Homo sapiens: one gene and its partner. The main gene of each other region encodes a partner of the protein of the gene in region 2 in a complex. Each region holds a gene or a part of one and is shown on either strand. Other genes may lie near its edges. A codon is read from its position in the direction of its gene.

Region 1 (3,600 bases), on a different chromosome or scaffold from region 2:
TGTCTGGCAAGCCCTCTCAGTATAGGTAAAAACTGAGATTCTAATAAGCCCACAGCCTCAGACGTCCAAAGCACACTTAACTGAAGTTCAAAGGCACAGCACATCCTCAGTTCTCTGCATGGAGTTGGATGCCATTTTAAGACATAAATACTGTCTCACTGCTTATGACTGTCACACTTCTTTAAAATAAACTTTCCAACATAAAAAAATTATACATACATAATCATCTTTCTTTGAGCCATAGGATGCGATATAATCTGCATGTTTCTCCAATAACAAAGTGTCCGGTGCATCTGACTTGATAATAACATCCTTCTGTGGAGTGCCCTTTCAAAATAAAGTGGTAATCTCATCAATGTTTACCTCTACAACGTTCTTCTGCCCCACAGCATAGATTCAACATACATCTCAATTTTCACTTGATTTCATCTTGTAATAGGAAAACGTTCCATTTAAAAATTGTAACTAACTAGGGAGGCTGAGGTAGAAGATCGCTTGAGCCAGGGAAATTAAGGCTGCAGTGAACTGAGGTTGTGTCACTGCACTCCATCCTGGGCGACCGGAGACCGACTCAAAAACAAAACCAAAACAACAACAACAACAACAAATTGTATCCAACAAAAAAGAACTTAAATCATTCAGGCTTCGTCTTAGTCACGATTCAGGTAATTTTCAGGTCTCAGAGTAATTCTAGAGCTAAAGTAGTAATAATCAACTTTAGATTCAGAATACATGCCAACTCATCATTGACCCAAAAAATTACCACCAGCATTTCTTGTTGTTCACTTTTCATTCAAAAAGATAAGTAAAAAATAAACACCATAGAATATCAAAGCTTATCATTTCAGGACAACTTACGGTTTACATGTGGCAGAAAGCATATTTTTAAAAAATAAAAAAATCTAACCCTTAACTTGCAAGCGAATTCTTGCTTAATCAAATGCAGGTTTCAAAGCACCTTCTAAGTACCCCAAAAGTTGTTCAAATGTATTAAATAAGCAGTTCCTTTAGCTCCATCTTCTCCACCTTTAATCCGAGTCTCTGTATTTGCAGAAGTCCCCATGTGATGCGGCTCTAGTTCTTTTCGTATCTATATCTTCCTCATTGAGAGTACACTGCAGTCACTATAACAGGTCATGAAGATTACCGGAAGTGATTAAGTACCGAATTTTCTTCTGATCCCATTAAAAATCTTAAAGCGAGACCACATCACTAACGATTTTAAAGAAATCTTTGACACCCCCTCTCCAAGAAAAAAAAAAGCCACCAATCAGCCACAGCTTTTTAGAGGGGTTCAGAAATCGGGCTGCTCAACTCTTAACAGGCCCTCCCTACAGAAGAAGGCCTGGATAAAATTAGAAGCGGCATTGCCCGCGAGGTCTGCAGAAAACGCTGAGTAATATTTCACACTCAAAAAACCTTCCAAGGCCTGTGTCCTAACCATTCTCCAGCACCAGGAAACCAATCCTAAGGTGACCAGTGTGCTTAACCCTACTCCACCCTGTCTGCTACCAACCCATCCGGACAGCAGCGCTAAACTCACACTTACCATGTCTAACAGGGAAAGGAGAGAGCAGGGTCAGTTCCTGGGTAGACTTAGGAGCCGGGCGCCTGCGCAGATGCGCCTCTCAGGCCCCCATCGCGCTCCGATATAGCTGACCACACTTTCGCCTGCAAGGCAGAGCAGTTCCACGGCTGCCGTAGGACCCCACTGATCGCTCATAGGTGTCCTCACTGCCTGCGTCCAAAGTCCTGCGACCATATGCTTGTCCCATAGTCACTCCGATTTGTCTAGAAACAGTTTTAAATAATATTTAAATATCTGAGTTGCTTTTAAGAAATCATTTGTTCTAGCTGGACGCGGTGGCTTACGCCTGTAATCCCAGCACTTTGGGAAGCCGGACAGCAGGATTGCTTGATCCTAGGAGTGTAACCACCCAATATTGTGGTTCACTTTGCCTGCTGCTGACCGATAGCCCATTTATCAAGACAGGGGACTTGCAATGGAGTCTCCCCAAGCAGTATTCAGAGTTTTTAAAGATAATTCGGCGATTAGGGGCTTGGGAAGTAGGGAGTGCTGATGGGTCAGGTTGGAGATGGACTCATAGTGGGTAGACGTGAGTTTTTCTTGCTGTTTTCTGTTCCTGGGTAGGATGGCAGAACTGGTTGAGCCAAATTACCAATCTGGGTGGTTTCAACTGATCCATGGAGAGCAGGGTCTGCAAAATATCTCAAGAACTTATCTTAGGTTTTACAATAGTGATGTTATCCCCAGGAGCAATTTGGGGAGGTTCAGAAACTTGGAGCCAGAGGCTGCATGACCTCTAAACTGTAATTTCTAATCTTGTAGCTAATCTGTTGGTTCTGCAAAGGCAGACTGGTCCCCAGGCAAAAAAGCGGTCTTTTTGGGAAAGGGATATTATCAATTTTGTTTCAGAGTCAAACCATAAACTGAATTCCTCCCTAAATTGGTTCAGCCTAGGCTCAGGAATGAAGAAGGACAGCTTAAAAGTTAGAAGCGGCCGGTGGCTCACGCCTGTAATCCCAGCACTTTGGGAGGCCAAGGCGGGCGGATCACGAGGTCAGGGGATCGAGACCATCCTGGCTAAAACCCCGTCTCTACTACAAATACAAAAAATTAGCCGGGCGTGGGGGTGGGCGCCTGTAGTCCCATCTACTCCTGAGGTTGAGGCAGGAGAATGGCTTAAACCCGGGAGGCGGAGCTTGCAGTGAGCAGAGATCACGCCACTGCACTCCACCCTGGGCGACAGAGCGAGACTAGTCTCAAAAACAAAAGTTAGAAGCAAGATGGAATCCGTTAGGTCTGATTTCTTTCACTGCCATAATTTCCTCAGTTATAATTTTGCAAAGGCGGTTCCAGGAGATCCAGACCAGCCTGGGCAATGTTGCAAGACCCCCGTCTCTACAAATAATAAAAATATGAGCCAGACGTGGTTGCCCAAGCCTGTGGTTTCAGCTACTGGGGAAGCTGAGGTGAGAGAATTACTTGAGCTGTGGGGCAGGGGGTGGAGGCTACAGTGAGCGGTGATAATGCCACTGCACTGCAGGGTGTGAGACAGAACGAGACCATGTCTCAAAAAAATAAATCATTTGTTCTTGAGGCCCTTTGCACTCTGAAAATCTGAAATGGCTGTTAATTAGTAGAGTGCCTGCTTACACGTAGTAAGTGTTCAATGAATATTTTTTAAATGAATATTAATGAAATGTTCACATTTCCTTCCTGTTTGCCTTATCTATCTCAAGGTCCAGCCCTGTACCCGCCCCCTCTCCTCGCCACACACACAGGCCACCCTCCCCACCACCACCACCGCCACCACAAACACTTCTTCGGAGAGTGCTAATAGTAAAAATATTGGAAGTTACTTTTTTTAAAAAAATTATACTGTAAGTTCTAGGGTACATGTGTACAACGTGTAGGTTTGTTACATGGATATACATGTGCCAGGTTGGATTGCTGCACCCATTAACTCATCATTTAAATTAGGTATTTCTCCTAATGCTATCCTTCCCCCCTCCCCCAACACCATGACAGGCCCCTGTGTGTGATGTTCCCTGCCCTGTGTCCAGGTATTCTCATTC
Region 2 (3,955 bases):
ATATGCCAAAGTACAATACTGACAGTGGTCACCTCAGTCAGCAGCCAGCATCGAAGTCATGCATCAAGAACCTCGCCAGGAGGCAATGCCTAATTACATTTGTACTATACACTCTGTTCCTCACAGTTCAGGTAGGAATGTTTATTTGTGTTTTATAAAACTGTTTAATCTTTTTACATTAGGTAAACTCTGTCAAAAATGCTTTGAAAACCACAAATTAACAGATGCTGAGACTACTGTATCATTCACAAAAAGTTCTTCCTCATGCCAAAGATGTTCTGAGAAAACAAGCAGAAGTTTATTGTAACTTCACATTTTACCATTACCACTCTTAAGACGCTAGAAACAAGTAAGATTTAAGGAAAAATAAAAAGAACCTAAACCCGATAGTACTGGATATACCAATACAGAGACTGATTGCAGAAGACTACAGCAGTTCTCTCTAGAGTTCAGCCAGCTGCTTATTAAGACATTTAATTACATTTATTAATATGCCTTGCACAAGAAAATACTACTTAATCTTTCACATCTCCTATCTTTCAACTATGTTCTGTATAAATAATACTTCTATTACGTTACTAACTCCAGCTTAAATAAGCCTCATAAATCATGTCAAATGATATAATTTCAAAATTCCACACATATATTACTCTACAAATATACTCCTTGGTGAAAAGATGTCAACAGTCTCCTTTCTGAAAGCTGTTAGTTTGATGTTAGATCAATCACTGACTAAGCATTTATTGAGCATCTACTATAACTGTACCCAGTCTTTAACTAATAAGAAAAAAATACCTGCTCCAAATGCAAGATGATATTTGTAAGGGAGGATAATTTATCAACTTTTTCTAATAGAATGCTCCTTGAATCAATATCTGCCATATGAAATTATATGACAAGTAAACCTCAAATTTATTACCTATCACCTTATAATGATAAATAAGCAATCTAAAGTATGCTGCATAGTACCTTGAGGAAAGTGACTGCTATACTTAAAATTAAGGCTGATTCCTAAAAGGTATGGAAGAAAAGCCAGAATGTTATTGTTTGTAAACCACTAAAGACTTAATATGAACAGTTTACATAACTATCTGGTTAATTTGGGCAAATGAGCACTTGTGTTTGGTTTCTAACTTTGCTGGAAGGTGTTGGTCTAATAAAGAAAACTGCTTTAAGTAGGAGCACTTTTAGCATACACAAAAATAAAAATCCTTTGTAAATTTCACTTGCAATGTTGTGCAACTGTATATCTTTGCCTTATGCATTTGAAACTGATTATGTATTTTATGCAAAATGGTATATTTTTCCCAAAGCTAAGAATATGGACAATGATGATATGATAGCTAAGCTAGTTTTATCTTTCTAGCTTTTATCAACTCTTGACTTGTTGAATTCCTACAATGTGCAAGGCAGTATGCAATGTGTTGAACATATATGAGGTCTACACATAAAACAAAGGGAAACTGAAGTCTTTGGAAGCAAAATAGTTGTCAATTTGAAAACCAACGGTAATCATTTTCCTCAACAGTATTTCTAAAAGTTGAGAATGATGTCAACTAAAACAAAATACAATCATCCCCACCTCTACCAAAGATGGAACTATAACACAGAAATCATTTCCACAGAAGACACGAGAATGTTCATACTAGAGCCATAGGGACCAAAGCAGCAAGATAAACAATGAGGCAGTCACAGAATATCTACTAGCTACTGTACTGGTAATAGTTTATAAAAAATACGATCTATACTAAAATTTAAGAGCTAATAATATATTTAGCATATTTTTGCCTTTTCTTTTTGCCACTGAATATAAAATTTGTCCTGAATTTACTAAATCTTCTACACCCTGAGGAATAACAACAGACTAATAAAAGTAACGTCAGGGTTAGCTTTCTGGACAATAGAATCATCCAGAAAGCACAAATTATATATAGCTAATATTCTTGGAAGCACAAGGTTTCATCAGCAGACTAAACTACTGCCCTGTATTGTTCTTAGCAAAGAGTTTGGTTTTACAGTGTTAACATGGCCTGGTGAGAGTAGAGAAGTCAAAGTTGGGAGCCTGAGGTTTCCTCTCCCACCTGAGATCCACAACTGATTCATTGGTTTTCTGTCTTCACCATGAACATGGCATATTGCTGCCCTTTAGGAATATATTATTCAACAGTTCTCTGTAAAAGCACTTTGGAATCTTTAGCTATATATTTCTATGAAATTATATTTGCTATCTTGAAATATGGAATTCCTATCCCTCCCTTCTCCATATACAAACAGATAAAATGATACATTTAAAATTTCATCTACGCATTTACTTCTTTTCCTCCAATACCTGAGAGAAAGCAAGTACTGTTTTCCCCCTTTCAACTATATTACATTATGCCTGAATTTGAGAGGGAAGGAAGGTCCTAAAGTAAGGCAAAGGATTCATTTAGGACAACGTTCTGGCCTTTATTTTAGGGCAGAGTGCCACTGTTTCCCTTTGGACGCAGGTTTCAGGCTAATCTATTTGTGCACACACCATCCTCTAAATGGGATGCCTCCAACCCCCAAAACGTTAGTTGCCAGAAAGAAAGAACTAAATCTTGGTAGGGTGCTTAAAATGATAACTAATGGAATAATCAAAGCATCCTGCCTGCTTATATCAGTCTCTCACTGAAGGATAAAATACCCTACGGGGCCATGCCTAGCGATGGGAATAAATAAAACAATGGGCCACAATCAACTGTTTGATAAAACTTCCATCCTGTTTTCTTAAACATTAAATATAATCTTGCTCCCAAAAAAGTAAGAAAGGCACTCGAATTAACACAGTCTCTACAGTTATTTTTTAAAAGACACTATGTGACAATAAGGAATTCTTAGGGTTGATTTTTCTTCATTAACTTCTCAGTGCCTCCACACATCTCTCCATTAAATGGGAGCTTATTACAGAGCATACCTAGGTATGGGGAGGCAGCAACACATAAAGTGCTAGGGTTTGCACAGTTCTATTTGAGAAATTTATTCAAGACAAAAGGTTCAGTTGTTATCAGGTTCAAATTTTCTAGCATACTTTAAATATCTGTAAGTTTTAAAATATAATTTTCCAGTAGCAAAATAATAGTTAGCTTAAAACAGCTTTTTAGAAAAAAAAAATCATGTTACTTCCCTTTACAACTAAATCTTTAGCATCTTCTATAACTCAGGGGAACTAAGGTAGGGATTATTAGATTGTTGTACAGTAGGTGGTATCTGCCATCTTGTGCTATGTAAGAGAAAATTATTAAACTGACAATTTGTTTGCTTCAATACTAAAAATTCCTTTTACACACACATACATGTGTGTGTGGCCCAACAAGAATAAACTGGCATGACCTGAACATACCTAAGTGGCATACGATCTACTATGTATTTGCTTTCCTGCAAACTACTGCATAAAAATCCAAAAACTTTTGTTTCCGTATCTTGTATCACATAAGCCCTTATTTAAAAATTTAAGTACTTTTAGAGATAACCTGTATATATTTAACCCTACTAATAATTAAGCCTTTAAGTGAGAACTGTACCATAGGAATAAGAAATATGACTGAAAGTCTGGGCCCAGAGTTTCTTAAGAGGTAATAAAATGCTAAAATCTACAGAAGACAAAGGGGACATTAATACATATCAAATCCCTAAGCTTAAAAAATGACTCATACAGATTTAAGAAATATCTGAAAGAGTCACAGTTCAAGTTGCGGGGAAAAAAGGAGAAGCATAAAATGATATGTGCACAGGTACAGATCAGTAAGTCACTGAAATCAAAGAATTTCTTCAGATGATTAAAAGCAGTTTCGGCTCTGTATGCAGGATCTGTCCTCTAGTATCACAAATGAACAGAAAGTGGTGTTCTTAATGCAAGTGGGTTCTTTAGCTCTACAAATTTTTAATATATATTATAATACAGTTAATTGACAATTACAGAGCTGCATTTCTT

What was found. Proteins that work in one complex are often made in the same cells at the same time.
Region 1: the proteins of PTAR1 (region 2) and RABGGTB are in contact, whole or in part, in a crystal structure (PDB 6O60), measured with the Homo sapiens proteins. Residues at the interface, in NP_001093136.1 of Homo sapiens: Val61, Lys62, Leu65, Pro66, His69, Leu73, Arg76, Leu97, Asn98, Asp100, Phe101, Thr102, Thr103, Asn106, Lys109, Glu110, Leu113, Ile141, Arg144, Trp145, Pro192, Ser193, Tyr195, Ser199, Ile202, Trp203, Gln206, Val231, Ser232, His234; in NP_004573.2 of Homo sapiens: Lys6 (codon at 315), Asp36 (codon at 225), Tyr37 (codon at 222), Cys40, Met41, Glu43, Tyr44, Ile89, Gly90, His91, Asp92, Asp136, Trp138, Glu140, Phe177, Asp178, Gly182, Cys183, Arg184, Pro185, Gly186, Ser187, Glu188, Ser189, His190, Gln193, Trp217, Glu221, Arg222, Pro225.

Annotation. Positions count from the first base shown.
Region 1 is NC_000001.11:75,784,224-75,787,823, reverse strand, and holds the start of RABGGTB (geranylgeranyl transferase type-2 subunit beta), read right to left. Parts: upstream 1,569-3,600; 5' UTR 1,553-1,568; coding exon 1,550-1,552; intron 753-1,549; exon of another isoform or gene 675-752; intron 328-674; coding exon 220-327; intron 1-219. UniProt on the Homo sapiens protein: Catalyzes the transfer of a geranylgeranyl moiety from geranylgeranyl diphosphate to both cysteines of Rab proteins with the C-terminal sequence -XXCC, -XCXC and -CCXX, such as RAB1A, RAB3A, RAB5A and RAB7A.
Region 2 is NC_000009.12:69,711,209-69,715,163, forward strand, and holds part of PTAR1 (protein prenyltransferase alpha subunit repeat-containing protein 1), read right to left. Parts: 3' UTR 1-3,955.